Linked DNA regions of Homo sapiens. The protein of the gene in region 2 binds, or shares a complex with, the protein of the main gene of each other region. Each region holds a gene or a part of one and is shown on either strand. Other genes may lie near its edges.

The links.
Region 1: WRAP53 (region 2) and TERT share a complex: the UniProt entries of both Homo sapiens proteins name them as parts of the telomerase holoenzyme complex.

The regions. Positions count from the first base shown.
Region 1 is NC_000005.10:1,263,075-1,271,466, forward strand, and holds part of TERT (telomerase reverse transcriptase), read right to left. Parts: intron 8,131-8,392; coding exon 8,045-8,130; intron 5,560-8,044; coding exon 5,446-5,559; intron 3,462-5,445; coding exon 3,390-3,461; intron 1,519-3,389; coding exon 1,330-1,518; intron 1-1,329. UniProt on the Homo sapiens protein: Telomerase is a ribonucleoprotein enzyme essential for the replication of chromosome termini in most eukaryotes. Active in progenitor and cancer cells. Inactive, or very low activity, in normal somatic cells.
Region 2 is NC_000017.11:7,690,690-7,699,081, reverse strand, and holds part of WRAP53 (telomerase Cajal body protein 1), read right to left. Parts: intron 1-8,392. UniProt on the Homo sapiens protein: RNA chaperone that plays a key role in telomere maintenance and RNA localization to Cajal bodies. Specifically recognizes and binds the Cajal body box (CAB box) present in both small Cajal body RNAs (scaRNAs) and telomerase RNA template component (TERC).

The DNA.
Region 1 (8,392 bases), on a different chromosome or scaffold from region 2:
CTGCACCTGCCACTCCCCCATCATGAGGGCGTCTGCACCTGCTGCTCCCCCATCACGAGGGTGTCCACACCTGCTGCTCCCCCATGAAGCAAACCCCAGGGAGCATTCTGGAAAGAGGCAAAGTCCAGATCTGGACTGTTAACTCAGAACGACAGGACCCCAGTTTAAACCTCTGGTTTAACAACCATCCACCACTTATTTCTCTTCCCATGAAGGTGTGCCTTTCAGAGGAAGGCACCCCCAGTTCCGGCCTCTAGCACAGCACCAGTAAATATTATCGAAGGACAGAATAAAAAAACACCTGTCCACTATGGTTTTGGAATGCTGATACTTTTTTTTTTTTTTTTAAGATGAAGTCTCACTCTGTTGCCCAGGCTGGAGTGCAGTGGTGTGATCTCGGCTCACTGCAACCTCTGCCTCCTGGGTTCAAATGATTCTCCTGCCTCAGCCTCCCGCATAGCGGGGACTACAGGCGTGTGCCACCAGGCCAGGCTAATTTTTGTATTTTTTAAGTAGAAATGGAATTTCACTATGTTGGTTAGGTTGGCCTCAAACTCCTGGCCTCAAGTGATCCACCCACCTCGGCCTCCCAAAGTGCTGGGATTATAGGTGTGAGCCACCTTGCCCTGCCTGGAATGTTGATACTTTTTATTCATAAAAGAAACAGCACAGATTTCTGCATCTGTGTCCATCTTCAATTCATTTGTGTCTGAGCCTGAGACGGGGCCTTGAGCTCTCGGGCTCTGGGGAAACAAGACCCCAGAATTTTGTAGAGACCCCCCCCACACCATGGCCCTGTCCCCTGATGGGTCACACGTGATCATGAACTCATGGCATCCTGTAGACTGTGGATGAGCCTTGGAGTGTGGGGCTCACAGCGGAGAGACTCACGCCCAAAAGGGCCCTGAAGTCTCTGGGTTCGGAGAGACTCACGCCCAGCAGGGCCCCAGGGTCTCGGGTTCAGAGGGACTCATGCCCAGCAGGGCCCCTGTGTTTCGGGTTTGGAGAGACTCACGCCCAGCAGGGCCCGGGCGTCTTGGGTTCGGATCCAGACTGCTTTCTGAAGACACCTCAGTGCACCCAGGTCTGGTGCACCATTTCCTTTTACCAAAATAGCACAGAAAACTGCTCCCGTTGTGAGCACCCTCACTCCCACAGAAAGATGCATTTCTGCTCAGCCCCAGATGGGACGAGGGGCACCCTGTGGCCTCTGACCCTTTGGGATTGGCAGTCGCCTGCCCCACACGGAAGCAGAGGTGGACGCAACGGCCCTGCAGCAGCACCTGCCCCAGCCGGGCACAGGCTCCACTTCCGGCCAGGTGCGCTCACCTGGAGTAGTCGCTCTGCACCTCCAGGGTCCGGGTATCCAGCAGCAGGCCGCACCAGGGGAATAGGCCGTGGGCCGGCATCTGAACAAAAGCCGTGCCACCCAGGGCCTCGTCTTCTACAGGGAAGTTCACCACTGTCTTCCGCAAGTTCACCACGCAGCCATACTCAGGGACACCTCGGACCAGGGTCCTAAGGCAGAGGGGCAATGTCAGCCCCAGGATGCGGGGCCGTCACCCAGGAGGTAACCTGACACCCTTGTTAAATGCTTTGGAAAACCCCAGAGAAGTGGTGATTTGGAGCAGGGTGCTGGGCCTGGCAGGAGCTCTGAGGAGCCTGGACCCAGCCCTGCTCCAGACTTCGGGGTGCTTTCCCTGTCTCCCGGGCAGGACAGGTAGGTGAGCATGCAAGAACCTGGCCTGGACCCGGGACAGCCAGGACTCAGATGGGAGGTGCAGCCCCAGTGGCCTCTGTGATGGTCCATCTCATGTGTCCCCATGGCAACACCACAATCCCGTTATAGACTCATCTGTGGTCCGGGGCAGACTAAAATCTGGACAAGAAATTGCCACCATCCCACCTTCTTTTAAGACGTTTCTCAACGACTTTGCCTGTTTTCTCCTAGATGCCCTGAAGGCATCTGCTGTGCTTTAGACAAAGGGGAGGGTTCTGAGTTCCTGCTCAGGCGCGGGACCTGGCTGGGCTGTGAGCTGGGCAACACCAGTCGTCAGCTTCACGTCAAGGAGGTTCCCTCGCCGAGTCATGAGCCTCGCTCACCCAGCTCAGGGAGCCCCCCTGTGCCCGGTAGCCTCTGCTCTGGCCTGGGCATCCCCTTCCCTTCCTGCGGCCTCTGCTGTGGCCCCGGGCGTCCCCCTGCCCTTCCTGTGGCCTGGCCCTGGGACCTCGGCCAGCTGCGCAGCTCCCCTGGTGCATTCCCAGCTCCCTGTGGCCACCCCTTCCTGTTACATGGCTGCCGACTCATCAGAGACAGAGTTCTGCCCCCGGTGGGACCCCAACATACACTCTGAGCCACCTCCCTGGCCAGCACCCTCAGGAACTTGCCACACAGAAGCAGCGTTCCCCGTCTGCTCTGTCCCCTCAGCAGCCTCAGGACTCCTGAGCCCTCAGTTGCTTGGGACCTGGGCTCCCCCCGAGTGAATCTTAGTGGATTTAAATGTGCACAGCCTGCTGTGCTCCGGGCTGCGGCACAAGGAACGCCAGGCATACCCCCAGCCCAGGGCGGCCCTGGAGGGTGGACCTGGAGGGTGGACTTGGAGGGCGGGTCCAAATGGGTTTTCACAAACACAGCCCAGCAAAGCACCTGAAACCACCCCTGGCGGCCACATTTTCTGAGGGTTCCCTTTACAGCTTTCAAGGTTTCTCGTCCCTCGTCAAATCGCACTTTAAAACAAGCCCACCGGCTCTGTGGGGCGCCCTTGAGGGGGACCACATTGGACAATCCCCTGTGCTGAGGCCAGGTCCCCTGTGCCTGATTTTAGTTTGATTCACAAAAATCAACTCTGAAACCCACTCCTAGCCATCTCCGTGGTTCAAGACAGCAGCACTCAGCAAATCCAAATTCTCCCACCGATCCCAAACAACCCCACGCAGGAACGTGACCGCAGCGAACGCTGTGGGCCAGCTCACTCAGCAGCTCCTGCTCTCCGCAGGCTCAGGTGCACCCTGGGGAGGAGGCTGCCGCCTCGGCCCTGCAGGCCCTGTGCACAGCTCCTGGGGGTCTCACTGGGGCCCCAGGAGCCGCCACTCTTGACTTTCCAAAGAGCAGCAGGAGCCAGGTCACCGCCTGCACTCACCACGTGTGTAACCTGGGTGCGTCTCTGCAGGACCAGGGCCTGCACGGTACCCACTCCCTCCCGAAGGTGCCCCTGCGCCCCCAGGCCTGGGTGCACGGCCAAGCGCCTCTGCTCTTGCGGATCCAGCACCGGCAGAGAGAGAGGACTTGGCAGAGACAACGCTGCGGTGCCAGGGGCAGGACACGGGGGGCTCAACTGCAAAGCCCACAGGCTGTGGAGGTCCCCACAGACACACGGCACGGGCCTCACCTGAGGAAGGTTTTCGCGTGGGTGAGGTGAGGTGTCACCAACAAGAAATCATCCACCAAACGCAGGAGCAGCCTAAAATAAGGGAAAATACACAGCAAGGTTAACTTTACACTTTTTACGTAGTATCTGTCTACGAGGGACTGAATGTCAAACAATTTACACAGCCATAAATAAAGTAACATTCTCCAAAGCGGTTAAATGAAAAACTTAAATTTCTTTCCAACAGACGAGCTCTCTACAGTTAACTGCTACAGCAATTCCTCATTCATTATAAGTACTCAGTGTTTACCATCAGCTTGTGCAATTCTGTGCCAGCTGAAGACGAACGAAGGCCATCAGGCGCGGCCCCACTTCTCAGACTCTTAGGGAAAAATAACTGAAGACGGTAAGAAAGCTGGGGCTGGGAACCTCGCCCCCTCTGAGCCACGTGGTGCCCTTTACCAGCATGGCAGCTGTGGTCCTCAGCATGATCCGAGACCCAGATCCTATCCACAGGAAGCTGGGCATGGTGCACTGTGTGACCCTCAGGCCCAAGCCCAGCGCCCCATGACCATGGGCCAGAGGTATCCTGTCCCAGAGGGCTGACCAGTGTGCCGCCAGCTCGAGGACACTTTCCTCCAAATCCCAGAGCAAGTTGTGTGTACAAGAAATTTTTGTTTCTGTTACATAAACTTATTTCAATCTAGAACTTGAACCTTAATGAAGAAGAACCTTGATCCACTGTACATGCTATAATTGGAGCTAGAGTTTCAAAAGATGCACAGGAAAAACCCGGAGTCTTCGAGAGAAATGGCTGTGTGGCCTGCAGGCTTCCTGACGCATCCTTCACTAACTGTCTGCTTGTTCAGTGATACTATTTTCATAAAAAAATAACTGCTGTCCACATCCTCTCCAGCACCAGAACACTTTTACACTGTTGGTGGGAGTGTAAACTAGTTCAACCATTGTGGAAGACAGTGTGGTGATTCCTCAAGGATCTAGAACTAGAAATACCATTTGACCCAGCCATCCCATTACTGGGTATATACCCAAAGGATTATAAATCATGCTGCTATAAAGACACATGCACACGTATGTTTATTGCGGCACTATTCACAGTAGCAAAGACTTGCAACCAACCCAAATGTCCATCGATGATAGACTGGATTAAGAAAATGTGGCACATATACACCACGGAATACTATGCAGTCATAAAAAAGGATGAGTTCATGTCCTTTGTAGGGACATGGACGAAGCTGGAAACCATCACTCTGAGCAAACTATTGCAAGGAAAGAAAACCAAACACCACATGTTCTCACTCACAGGTGGGAACTGAACAATGAGAACACTTGGACACAGGGTGGGGAACATCACACACCAGGGCCTGTCATGGGATGGGGGGAGTGGGGAGGGATAGCATTAGGAGATATACCTAATGTAAATGATGAGTTAATGGGTGCAGCACACCAACATGGCACATGTATACATATGTAACTAACCTGCACGTCGTGCACATGTACCCTAGAACTTAAAGTATTAAAAAAAAAAAAGTAACTGCTGTCAATAAAAGCCAGCTGAGTTGAACCACATTAGGTTGGCACGATATTTAGGTGTGTGCGTCCTTGGGTGTAGACCCCATGCAAGTGGGATGGGCAATGGGCTGAAGAGGCGCCCAGTCCAGGCCACCTGTCGAGGGCCTGCTGGGAGATGTGGGGCCTCAGGCTGCACCAGCCCCATCTCCCCAAGGACCCTAACGGAACCTGGGTGACGTGACAGAAGCTGGTGTGCTTCCTCGGTGTTGAATTCACATGCTCATCATGCAGGGCAGCGGCCCTCCCGCCTGCTGAGCCCTGAGGCCTCTGGACATGGCCGCTGGACAGAGCCTGCGTGGAGCCCGCAGTCCTCAGGCTGTGCAACCCCTCCCGTGCGGCTTCATACCAAGAAGGGGCTGCAACCTTGTCTGGTTCCTCAAGACAGAGCAGTCATGGTCTCCAGAGCACCAGGAATATTAACACTGAATGCATCAAAAGCAAATCAACCCCCACCCAAGCCCCCCTGGGGAAGAGGAGGCCTCACCCGTCCCGCCGAATCCCCGCAAACAGCTTGTTCTCCATGTCGCCGTAGCACAGGCTGCAGAGCAGCGTGGAGAGGATGGAGCCCTGCGGGATCCCCTGGCACTGGACGTAGGACCTGGGGCGGGAAGACACAGGTGAGAGACGGGCAGGGCATGTGCTGGACATGCGTACACTCAAACCGAGCCACACACAGACACAGAACCTCATACACACAAACGACACGTCTACCATTCAGCCGGCAAACACCTCAGAAACATACCAGATGAGACCTCTGAACAAACAATCCCTGCTCCCCACTCTCACCATGCACTGGGGCGGCTGAAACAGATCCAGCCACAGGTGTGACCACATCCTTGCTCTGAATCATCAAGGTTTTCTTTCATTAAGGTTTCTTAAATCTTAGAGTTTATTCACAGAACCAGACACTTGACCCGGAATGAATGCTTAACCGGACTCCTTTTTTTTTTTTCAAGGAATTTGTCCACGGTGAAAGACTCATGACCCTACATGTAGCCGCTGCGCGCCAACGGATACAACCTTGCCCCTAGTTTCAGCATGACCAACGAGAAGCAGAAACTCTCCAAACAAGGATGCCAAGGGTGCGTTTTCAGACAAACAGTGAGAGCAGAATAGCCCCGTGGAACCTAAAGGTGCACACAGAAGGCATGGCTGCCACGCGACCCTCAGCCATCCCCAGAGCCCACAGGACGCCACTCCTGTTGCTAAGAGACGCTTGCAGCCTACTGCAAAAACAAGACCTGTTATTTTCGGGAAGCGCTATAGGTGGTCACCTTAAAAAGAGGCTTTCCGGCTGGGCGTGATGGCTCACACCTGTAATCCCAGCACTTTGGGAGGCCGAGGTGGGTGGATCACCTGAGGTCAGGAGTTCGAGACCAGCCTGGCCAACATGGCAAAAACCCCTCTCTACTAAAAATACAAAAATTAGCCAGGCGCAGGGGGTGGGTGCCTGTAATCTCAGCTGCTCGGGAGGCTGAGGCAGGAGAAATGCTGGAACCCGGGAGGCGGAGGTTGCAGTGAGTTGAGATCGCGCCACTGCACTCAAGCCCAGGCAGACAACAGTGACGTTCCGTCTCAAAAAAAAAAAAAGAAAGAAAAGAAAAGAGGCTTTCCTTGCTGGTGCAGATATCACAGTGATGGGCAAGAGGACTGCACTTTTTGCACAGAAGCACACGCACCAACTCTAGGAGTCCGGCCAGCCCAGCGAGTCAACGCAAGCAGATACGCCCCTGTGAGCACATGGGATGGGAAACTCTCTCTGTTCTTAGTTTTTGGGGCAACAGGTTTTGAAGACGTTTTTATTCAGAGGCCAAACTGGACCACGATGGGGACTAGAGCTTCGGGCCTGTCCGTGTCCTAGGGACAGGACAGACACAGTCACCTCCTGTCTGTCAGGGCATGAGGACGCAGTCATCACCTCACATTCCCCAAAGCCCTGCCACACGTGGACGGTACGTGACTTGATCCATCTTAATAAAATTCACGACCACGAAGGAGGCCCGTGGTGGCTTCTCTGGGGAGGTGACTTTGTCAGCGAATTCTGTGGGCCTGGGGGCCGCTTACACACATGTGCACACGTGTCCCTCGGCCAAAATTCACTCTGCTGCCATGTGCAATTTGTGTTTTTCCAGAACGTGTGTACTACTTAATATTTCTAATTATACTTTAATAAATATTATAATTGCTGATACCATTAGTGATTACTTATAATGCAATAATTAATAGTTATATTTTTAAATAAAAGCTTCCGAAGCTGTGCACAGTCCTTTATCCGCTGGAGACGATCCCAGAGAGAGGCCTCCACGTTCCACCTGACTGCGGATGACCTTGCTGATGACCTTGAGTGTGCACGAATTTCCTCCGTGCTACCACTCTCCCCAGGCACACACAGGGTCGCAGGCAGATGCCTGCCGGGAGGTGTGTGGTTTTACTTAAAATCCAGAGGACGTGATGTGGCACCAGGCACTGTGGCTCTACCACCGTGAGTGTGGCTCACCCAGTGGCTGTGTGACGGCAGCTCTCCCAGGCCGCCTGCCCCATGGCCACCACAGGCCCCCCGAGAGGAGCAAACTACACGGTCAACCCCGCACTTTCCAGATGGGAAATCTAGTCACAGAGAGAAGAGCCCGCGCCCTCGCGGGGGTCACACGACAGGGACAGGAATGAGAATCGGATAAAATCCTTTTGTATCGGGAGAGAGAGATACAAGCGTGTGAGAGCCGGGTGTCCAGCGTCAGTAGTAACTTGGAGCTGACAAGCTGCAGGCTCAAACGCTCGGCGCACACCTGACCCAGACACACCCCCCGCCCCTCGTCCTCCACGCAGGAGCAACTCCACACCCCGCTTGCCATTTCCAGGCCTCGTGTGGCACCTGCTCCGCTCCGGCTGCCGCAAGCCGAGCCATGTTTCCGGGGCCTCGGGAGCCTGCAGCCCAGGAGCCGGAGGGGGCGGGGGCCAGAAAAGGAGACTCTGGTGGCCCCGGGCAGAAGGGCAGTGGGGAAGGGGCAGGAGAGAGGTGAGCAGAAGCCCTGCCAGCCCGCCCAGCCACCCGCAGGGCAATGGCACCTGGCCACCTGACTCACTTGCCCCTGATGCGCACGGCGTGGTGGCACATGAAGCGTAGGAAGACGTCGAAGAGGCCACTGCTGGCCTCATTCAGGGAGGAGCTCTGCGAAAGCAGACGGGAGACACATGGGAGTGAGCCGGTGGGTGCTGAGACAGGCAGGACCACGTGGCCAAGACCCTCCGTCCCTTTTGGGGTCAGTGTTTGTGATGAAGTGCGGGGCTGGGCTGGAATGCAGGGCCATCGTGGGCTGGCCGGGCCGAGTCTCTGCAGACACACATGGGCTTAGGCAGAGTGTGTGACACAGAATGTCTCCTCTGGGCCACCTGTGGGTCCAGCTGGGCTCACACCCACACAGCCCACCGTG
Region 2 (8,392 bases):
TAGACTTAATTTTTTCTTTTCTTAGAGACAGGGTCTTACTCTGTTGCCTAGGCTGGAGCACAGTGGCGCAATCATCTCACTGAAACCTCAAACTCCTGGGCTCAAGCAAACAATCCCCTGGCCTCAGCCTCCCTAGTAACTGGGAATATAAGCATAAGCCACCATACCTGGCTTATTTATTTATTTATTTATTTATTTATTTATTTTTGACGGAGTCTCGCTCTGTCGCCCAGGCTGGAATGCAGTGGCACAATCTTGGCTCACTGCAACCTCTGCCTCCCAGACTCAAGCAATTCTCTGCCTCAGCCTCCTGAGTAGCTACGATTACAGGCGCCTGCTATCACGCCCGGCTAATTTTTTTGTATTTTTAGTAGAGACGGGGTTTCACCATCTTGGCCAGGCTGGTCTTGAACTCCTGACCTCGTGATCCACCCACCTCAGTCTCCCAAGTGCTGGGATTACAGGCATGAGACACCACGCCCAGCCTGCCCGGCTAATCTTTAAAATTATTTTTTTGTAGAAACAGGGGTCTGTGTTGCTCACGCTGGTCTAAAACTCCTGGCCTCAAGCAATCCAGCCACCTCAGCCTTTCAATGCACTGGGATTACAAGCATGAGCCACCATGCCCGGCCTAGACTTAACAGTAATGGTATTATATCATATACATCCCTCTGTGATAGCAAGCTTTAACCATGGAAACACATTTTGCTCTAATTCATGCATTTTCACTGGTGTATAGTACTCTACTCATGAATATATTCAAACTGATCTACCCTTCTTCTATTTAGAATCACTGATGTTTTTCTGTTTTTTGGCTAGTGTGCTTTAACATTCTGTACACATGTAGAAGGGTTTCTCTACAGTTTCTGCTGAAGAGTAAAATTACTGGTCTCTACGCTATGCACTTTGCAAACTTTGTAAGATACTATAATGTCAATTTCTTTCCCAAAGCACTTGTCCCAATGTCCTCTCCCACCAGCAGTGTATAAGAGTCTCTATTCTAGCCTGGGCAATATAGCAAGACCCCAGTTTTACAAAAAATTAAAAAATTAGTCAGGCATATTGGCATACTTGTAGTCCCACCTGTTTGGGAGAGTGAGGCAGGAGGACTGCTTGACCCCAGGAGTTTGAGGCTACAGTGTGCCATGTTCGCACCACTGCACTCCAGCCTGGGCAACAGAACAAGATCCTGTCTCCAAAAAAAAAAAAAAGTGTCTATTGTTCTTTATCTTCTTGGTATTGCCAGACTTTTACATTTTTCTCAATTTGAAGGTGGTGAAATGGTATTTCATTACAGCATAAATTTGTATTTCCATCATTACTATAAGAGAGATTAGATATTTCCTCTATGTTTACTGGCCATTTAGTTAGGTACACCTTTTCATAAATTTTGCCCATTTTCTTTTTCTTTTTTTTTCTTTTTGAGACAGAGTCTTTCTCTGTTCCCCAAGCTGGGGTGCAGTGGCACGATCTTGGCTCACTACAACCTCTGCCTCCTGGGTTCAAGCGACTCTCATGCCTCAGCCTCCCAAGGAGCCGGGACCACAGGCATTTGCCACCACGCCCGGCTAATTTTTATACTTTTTAGTAGAGATGGGGTTTCACCATGTTGGCCAGGCTGGTCTCAAACTCCCAGCCTCAAGTGATCTGCCTACCTCGGCCTCCCAAAGTGGGGATTACAGGTGTGAGCCACCATGCCTGACCAGTTGTTGTCTTTTTCTTTTCTTCTCTTTTTTCTTTTTCTTTTCTTTTTTTTTTTTTGGAGGCAGAGTCTCCCTCTGTCCCCAGGCTGGAGTGCAGTGGCACGATCTCGGCTCACTACTACCTCCACCTCCCAGGTTCAAGCAATTCTCCTGCCTCAGCCTCCTGAGTAGCTGGGATTACAGGCGCCTGCCACCACACCCGGCTAATTTTTGTATTTTTAGTAGAGACGGGATTTTGCCATGTTGGTCAGGCTGGTCTTGAACTCCTGACCTCGGGTGATCCACCTGCCTCGGCTTCCCAAAGTGCTGGGATTACAGGCATGAGCCACCATGCCCAGCCGTCTTTTTCTTACTGATTTGTGAGAGATAAATAGTCTGGACACTGTCCTTCGTCAGTTGTCTTCTGGGCCTCAGGCTGATGTCAACCAGCCAGGACTTCAGTGTCCACCTCTATACTCTGAACCCATATATCCAACTGCCTGGTGGACAGTGCCACTTGATCATCCCACAGGTTCCTCAAACTCAATTTGTCCATAATAGGCCCGGCATCCACCACCATCAAACCTGCTGTTCCTCCTGGACTCCACACCAGTGCTCAATCCTGAAATCTGAGCACCAGCCTTGACTGCTACCACTCTTCACTTCCTTTCCACTCCTGGTCCAACCCAATACCAAATCTTGCCAGTTCCTCCTCCTAGTCTTCCATTACCACGTGCTACCCCCGACCCACCTCTCAAGGCTTATCTCTATCTGCTAATTCCCATAAAAATCTCTGAGTCCTGACCGGGCGCAGTGGCTCACGCCAGTAATCCCAGCACTTTGGGAGGCCAAGGCGGGCGGATCACAAGGTCAGGAGATCGAGACCATCCTGGCTAACGTGGTGAAACCCCGTGTCTACTAAAAACACAAAAAATTAGCCAGGCGTGGTGGCGGGCGCCTGTAGTCCCAGCTACTCGGGAGGCTGAGGCAGGAGAATGGCGTGAACCTGGGAGGCGGAGCTTGCAGTGAACCCAGATCGCGCCACTGCACTCCAGCCTGGGCGACAGAGCAAGACTCCATTTCAAAAAAAAAAAAAAAAAAAAAAAAAATCTCTGAGTCCCGCCATTTTGACTCTCAGGTCCCATAAAGTGCCAACTCGCCACACTTTCAACCCACTGGCTTTCACATGTCCTAGGCTCCAAGTCTGGAATATTCTTCCTTCATCTCCCCCAACGACTCCTCCTGGCTGAATCCTAGTCATCCTTCAGGTCTCTTAGATGCTTCTTCCTCTGGGAACGCTTCCCTAACCCCTCCAGCTAAGCAAGGCGCCCCTGTTCCTCTTTCCTATAGCCCCTGGTGCTCCTCACTCCCCTTCCGTCATACCTATCAGAGAAGGAGGGAATCACATCTGCCTCGCTCTCACCACTGCTTCCCCAACACGTGGTGCAGAATAAGCAGAGTCAACAAATACGGTTTTAATGAGCAAAAGGAGGCAGGAGACTGTTTCAGCAACATAAGGCCCAAAATAATAGGACCTTGAATTAAAGTAGAGGCAGTGGGAGGGACAGATGTGGGTGGATTAGGAAGATTAGGCAGACTTGATGGGATTTGGGAAGTAATTGGATGTGAGGGGTTAGGAACAGGGAGATTAAAGATTAAAGGATGAGAGAGACCCTGGCTTTTGGCTTGGATACCTGAGGTCACCAAAATGGCGGGCGAACAGGAGAGCACCGGAAGGCTGTACAGTGCCAACGTCGTCAGCGGGAGAGAGAATCAGCATAAGCCTCAAGGGAAAAGTTTCACAAAGACGAAAGAGCAATTGTGTGGCTACAGCATTTGGGAATGAGGACATTCCCCGTCCCCACCCTGAGAGATAAAGGGTACAGAGGATGCAAAGTGTCTCCTGGAGAGGGCAAGACGAGGAGTAAAGGCTTCCTGCAAGACCCACGGGGCAGGGCAAGTACTCAGGAAAGACGCTGGGGAGCTGGAAATGAGACTTGCAGAAAGTTCTGTGAAAAGGTGGAAAAGAAAGGAGAAAACCCGAGAAACTATATTGGGAAGAAGACTCAGTACACACAAGTATATGGAAATACCCAAATACACCCTTCCCCAATTTTCTGACCTATACAAATTTTATCTATTTAAGGCCGGGTGCAGTGGCTCACGCCTGTAATCCCAGCACTTTGAGAGGCCAAGGCGGGCGGATCACGAGGTCAGGAGATCGAGACCATCCTGGCTAACATGGTGAAACCCCGACTGTACTAAAAATACAAAAAATTAGCCTGGCGTGGTGGCAGTGGGTGCGTGTAGTCCCAGCTACTCGAGAGGCTGAGGCAGGAGAATGGCGTGAACCCGGGAGGCGGAGCTTGCAGTGAGCTGAGATCGCGCCACTGCACTCCAGCCTGGGGGACACAGCAAGACTCCATCTCAAAAAAAAAAAGTTATCTATTTCAAATGCTAAGCTTGTAGACACTAAAAATGAAAATACCTAATGAGAGAGGTTGCGATAGAACTGGTACACTAGCAGGAAAAAAAAAAAAAAAAGCACAAAAAGGTTTTGGTTGTTTGTTTTGAGACAGAGTCTCACTCTGTCGCCCAGGCTAGAGTACAATGGTGCAATCAAAGGTCATGGCAGCCTCAACCTCGCAGGCTCAAGCGATCCTCCCACCTCAGCCTCCCAAGTAGCTGGGACCATAGGCCCAACTTTTTTGATAGAGACAGGATCTGGCTGTGTTACCAAGGCTGGTCTCAAACTCCTGGGCTCAAGCATTCCTCCCACCTTGGTCTCCCAAAGTGCTGGGATTATAGGCATGAGCCACCACACCAGCCACAAAAATCTTTTGAAAACAAACTGACTGGCCAGGAGCAGTGGCTCACGCCTGTAATCCCAGCACTTTAGGAGGCGGAAATGGGTGGATCACTTGAGGTCGGGAGTTTGAGACCAGCCTGGCCAACTTGGCGAAACCCCATCTCTACTAAAAATACAAAAATTAGCCGGGTGCGGTGGTGCGTGCCTGTAATCCCAGCTACTCAGGAAGCTGAGGCAGGAGAATCGCTTGAACCGGGAAACAGAGGTTGCAGTGAGGCAAGATCACACCACTGCTCTCCAGCCTGGGCCACAGAGCGAGACTCTGTCTCAAAAAAAAAAAAAAAAAAAGAAAGAAAAAAAGAAAACAAATTGACTATCTGTATTGCAAGATATATTTTTTAAAATGTTTTAATATTATAATCATTAATATCATAATCACGACCATGCCTGGCTAACTTTGTATCTTTTTTAGTAGAGACGGGGTTTCACCATATTGGCCAGGCTGGTCTCGAACTCCTGACCTTAGGTGATCCACCCGCCTCGGCCTCCCAAAGTGTCGGGATTACAGGCGTGAGCCACCAGGCCTGACCCTGCTCTGCTATTTCTACCATGACAATTTATTCAGCTTCATCAAAAACTTATTTACAGTCCAGTTCCTTACCCACTGTAGATTCTAGTCCACCATGGCATGCACACTCTTGAAGACACTCTCAGGATACCCTTGTCTTTCTCTCCTGGTAAACCTCAACCATACCATCCTCCTATTCTTGGCTTGCACACAACTGATACCAGTGACTACTAGTGTTTACCGAACACTTACTATATGCTAGGTGCTGTTTTAAGTACTTTTTTTTAATTTTATTATTTTTTTTTGAGACTAAGTCTTGCTCTCTTGCCCAGGCTGGAGTGCAGTGGTGCGATCAGCTCACTGCAACCTTCGCCTCCTGGATTCAAGCAATTCTCCTGCCTCAAACCTCCCAAGTAGCTGGGATTACAGGCGCCCGCCACTAAGCCCGGCTAATTTTTGTATTTTTAGTAAAGACAGGGTTTCACTATGTTGGCCAGGTCGGTCTTGAATTCCTGACCTCAGGCGATCCACCTGCCTCGGCCCCCCAAAGTGCTGGGATTATAGGCGTGAGCCACCGCACCCGGCCTTAAGTGCTTTAATTCATTACTGATTATTTTAATTCTCACAACTCTGTGAGGCAGGTGCTATTATAATCATCCCCATTTTACAAACAGAGAAACTATAGTCATTTAACTTGCCAGGAAAGATGCACAGTCACACTAACTGGTCTCATTTCAAATTAATGGCAACAGACCTCTAGCGGGTACCGAGCAAAGAGCAACACAACTGCCACATGCCTTGGTGGGTCTGATTTTTTGAAACTCCGTCTCAAAAAAAAGAAAAAAAAGAAAGAGTGCTGATGGAGGAGGAGAAGGCCCAGCAGAGCCCTGAGTGCCTGAGTGCTCCAGCGCAGGGAGGTGGAGACAGTGACTCATGCTGCTAAGAGATGCAGTGAGGCGAATTTAGAGAATGACCCAAGAGGGGCTGGGCGCGGTGGCTCATGCTTGTAATCCCAGCACTTTGGGAGGCCGAGGCAGGAGGATCACGAGGTCAGGAGATCGAGACCATGGTGAAACCCCGTCTCTACTAAAAATACAAAAAATTAGCCAGGCGTGGTGGCGGGCGCCTGTAGTCCCAGCTACTCGGGAGAGGCTGAGGCAGGAGAATGGCGTGATCCCGGGAGGCAGAGCTTGCAGTGAGCTGAGATGGCGCCACTGCACTCCAGCTGGGTGACAGAGCGAGACTCTGTCTCAAAAAAAAAAAAAAAAAAAAAAAAGGAGAATGACCCAAGAGGACATTAGTGACCTTGACAAGAGCACTTTCAGGAAGCGATGGAGGCAGAACCTGATTAGGATGGGTGGGAGAAAACTATAGCCAATCTTTTTTTTTTTTTTTTTTTTTTGAGACGGAGTCTTACACTGTTGCCTGGACTGGAGTGCAGTGGTGCAATCCTGGCTCACTGCAACCTCCATCTCCTTGGTTCAAGTAATTCTCCTGCCTCAGACTCCAGAGTAGCTGGGATTACAGGCGCCCGCCACCACGCCCAGCTAATTTTTTGTATTTTTAATAGAGATGGGGTTTCATCATGTTGGCCAGGCTGGTCTCGAACTCCTGACCTCAGGTGATCCACCTGCCTCAGCCTCCCAAAGTGCTGGGATTACAGGAGTCAGCCACCGCACCCAGCCCCAACTAATTTTTGTATTTGAGTAGAGACAGGGTTTTACCATGTTGGCCAGGCTGGTCTAAAACTCTTCACCTCAGGTGATCCACCCATCTCAGCCTCCCAAAGTGTTGGGATTACAGGCGTGAGCCACCGTGCCTGGCCCTGGATTTCACTCTTGCCCACCCATAAACCATTCACTCTTCTGTTTTAAAACTCTCTTGGCCGGGCGCAGTGGCTCATGCCTGTAATCCCAGCACTTTGGGAGGCCAAGGTGGGCAGATCACAAGGTCAGGAGTTCGAGACCAGCCTGGCCAATATGATGAACCCCCCATCTCTACTAAAAAAATACAAAAAAATTAGCCGGGTGTGGTGGCACATGCCTGTAATCCCAGCTACTCGGAAGGTTGAGGCAGGAGAATCACTTAAACCTGGGAGGCGGAGGTTGCGGTGAGCTGAGATGGTGCCACTGCACTCCAGCCTGGACAACAGAGCAAGACTCTGTCTCAAACAAACAAACAAAAAAAACCTCTCTCATGGCCTGGCATGGTGGCTCACGCCTGTAATCCTAGCACTTTGGAAGGCTGAGGCAGGTGGATCACCTGAGGTCAGGAGTTTGAGACCAGCCAGGCCAACGTGGCAAAACCTGTCTCTACTAAAAATACAAAAATTAAGCCAGGCGCGGTGGCTCATGCCTATAATCCCAGCACTTTGGGAGGCCGAGACCGGCGGATCAAATGTCAGGAGTACGAGACCATCCTGGCCAATATGGTAAAACCCCGTCTCTATTTAAAAAAATACAAAAATTAGCTGGGCATGGTGGCGGGTGCCTGTAATCCCAGCTACTCGGGAGGCTGAGGCAGGAGAATCGCTTGAATCCAGGAGGCAGAGGTTGCAGTGAGCCGAGATCACGCCATTGCACTCCAGCCTGGGCGACAGAGCAAGACTCGTCTCAAAAAAAAAAAAAAAACACCTCTCTCATGACTTCCCAAATAAACTCCAAATGCCTTACCCATAAGAACCAACACGACGTGGCTGCTCTTCTCTGTCCTCACCCCTCTGTCCCCCTCACTTGCCTCAGTCTGGCTATACCAGCATTCTGGGTTTTTTGTTTTGTGTTTGTTTGTTTGTTTGTTTGTTTGTTTGTTTGTTTTGGGATGGAGTCTCACTCTGTCACCCAGGCTGGAGTGCAGTGACATGATCTTGGCTCACTGCAACCTCCATCTCCTGGGTTCAAATGATTCTTCTGCTTCAGCCTCTCAAGTAGCTGGGATTACAGGCACCCACCATCACACCCAGCTAATTTTTGTATTTTTGTAGAGATGAGGTTTTGCCATGTTGGCCAGGCTGGTCTCAAACTCTTGACCTCAGGTGATCTGCCCACCTCAGCCTCCCAAAGTGCTGGGATTACAGGTGTGAGCCACTGAGCCCAGTCTGTTTTGTTGTTTTTTGAGATGGAGTCTCACTCTGTCGCCCAGGCTGGAGTGCAGTGGTACAATTTTGTCTGACTGCAGCCTCCACCTCCTGAGTTTAAGAGATTCTCCTGCCTCAGCCACACAAGTAGCTGGGATTACAGGCGCGTGCCACCACATGCGTCTAATTTTGGTATTTTTAGTAGCGATGGGGTTTTGCCATATTGGCCAGGCTGGTCTCGAACTCCTGGCCTCAAGTGA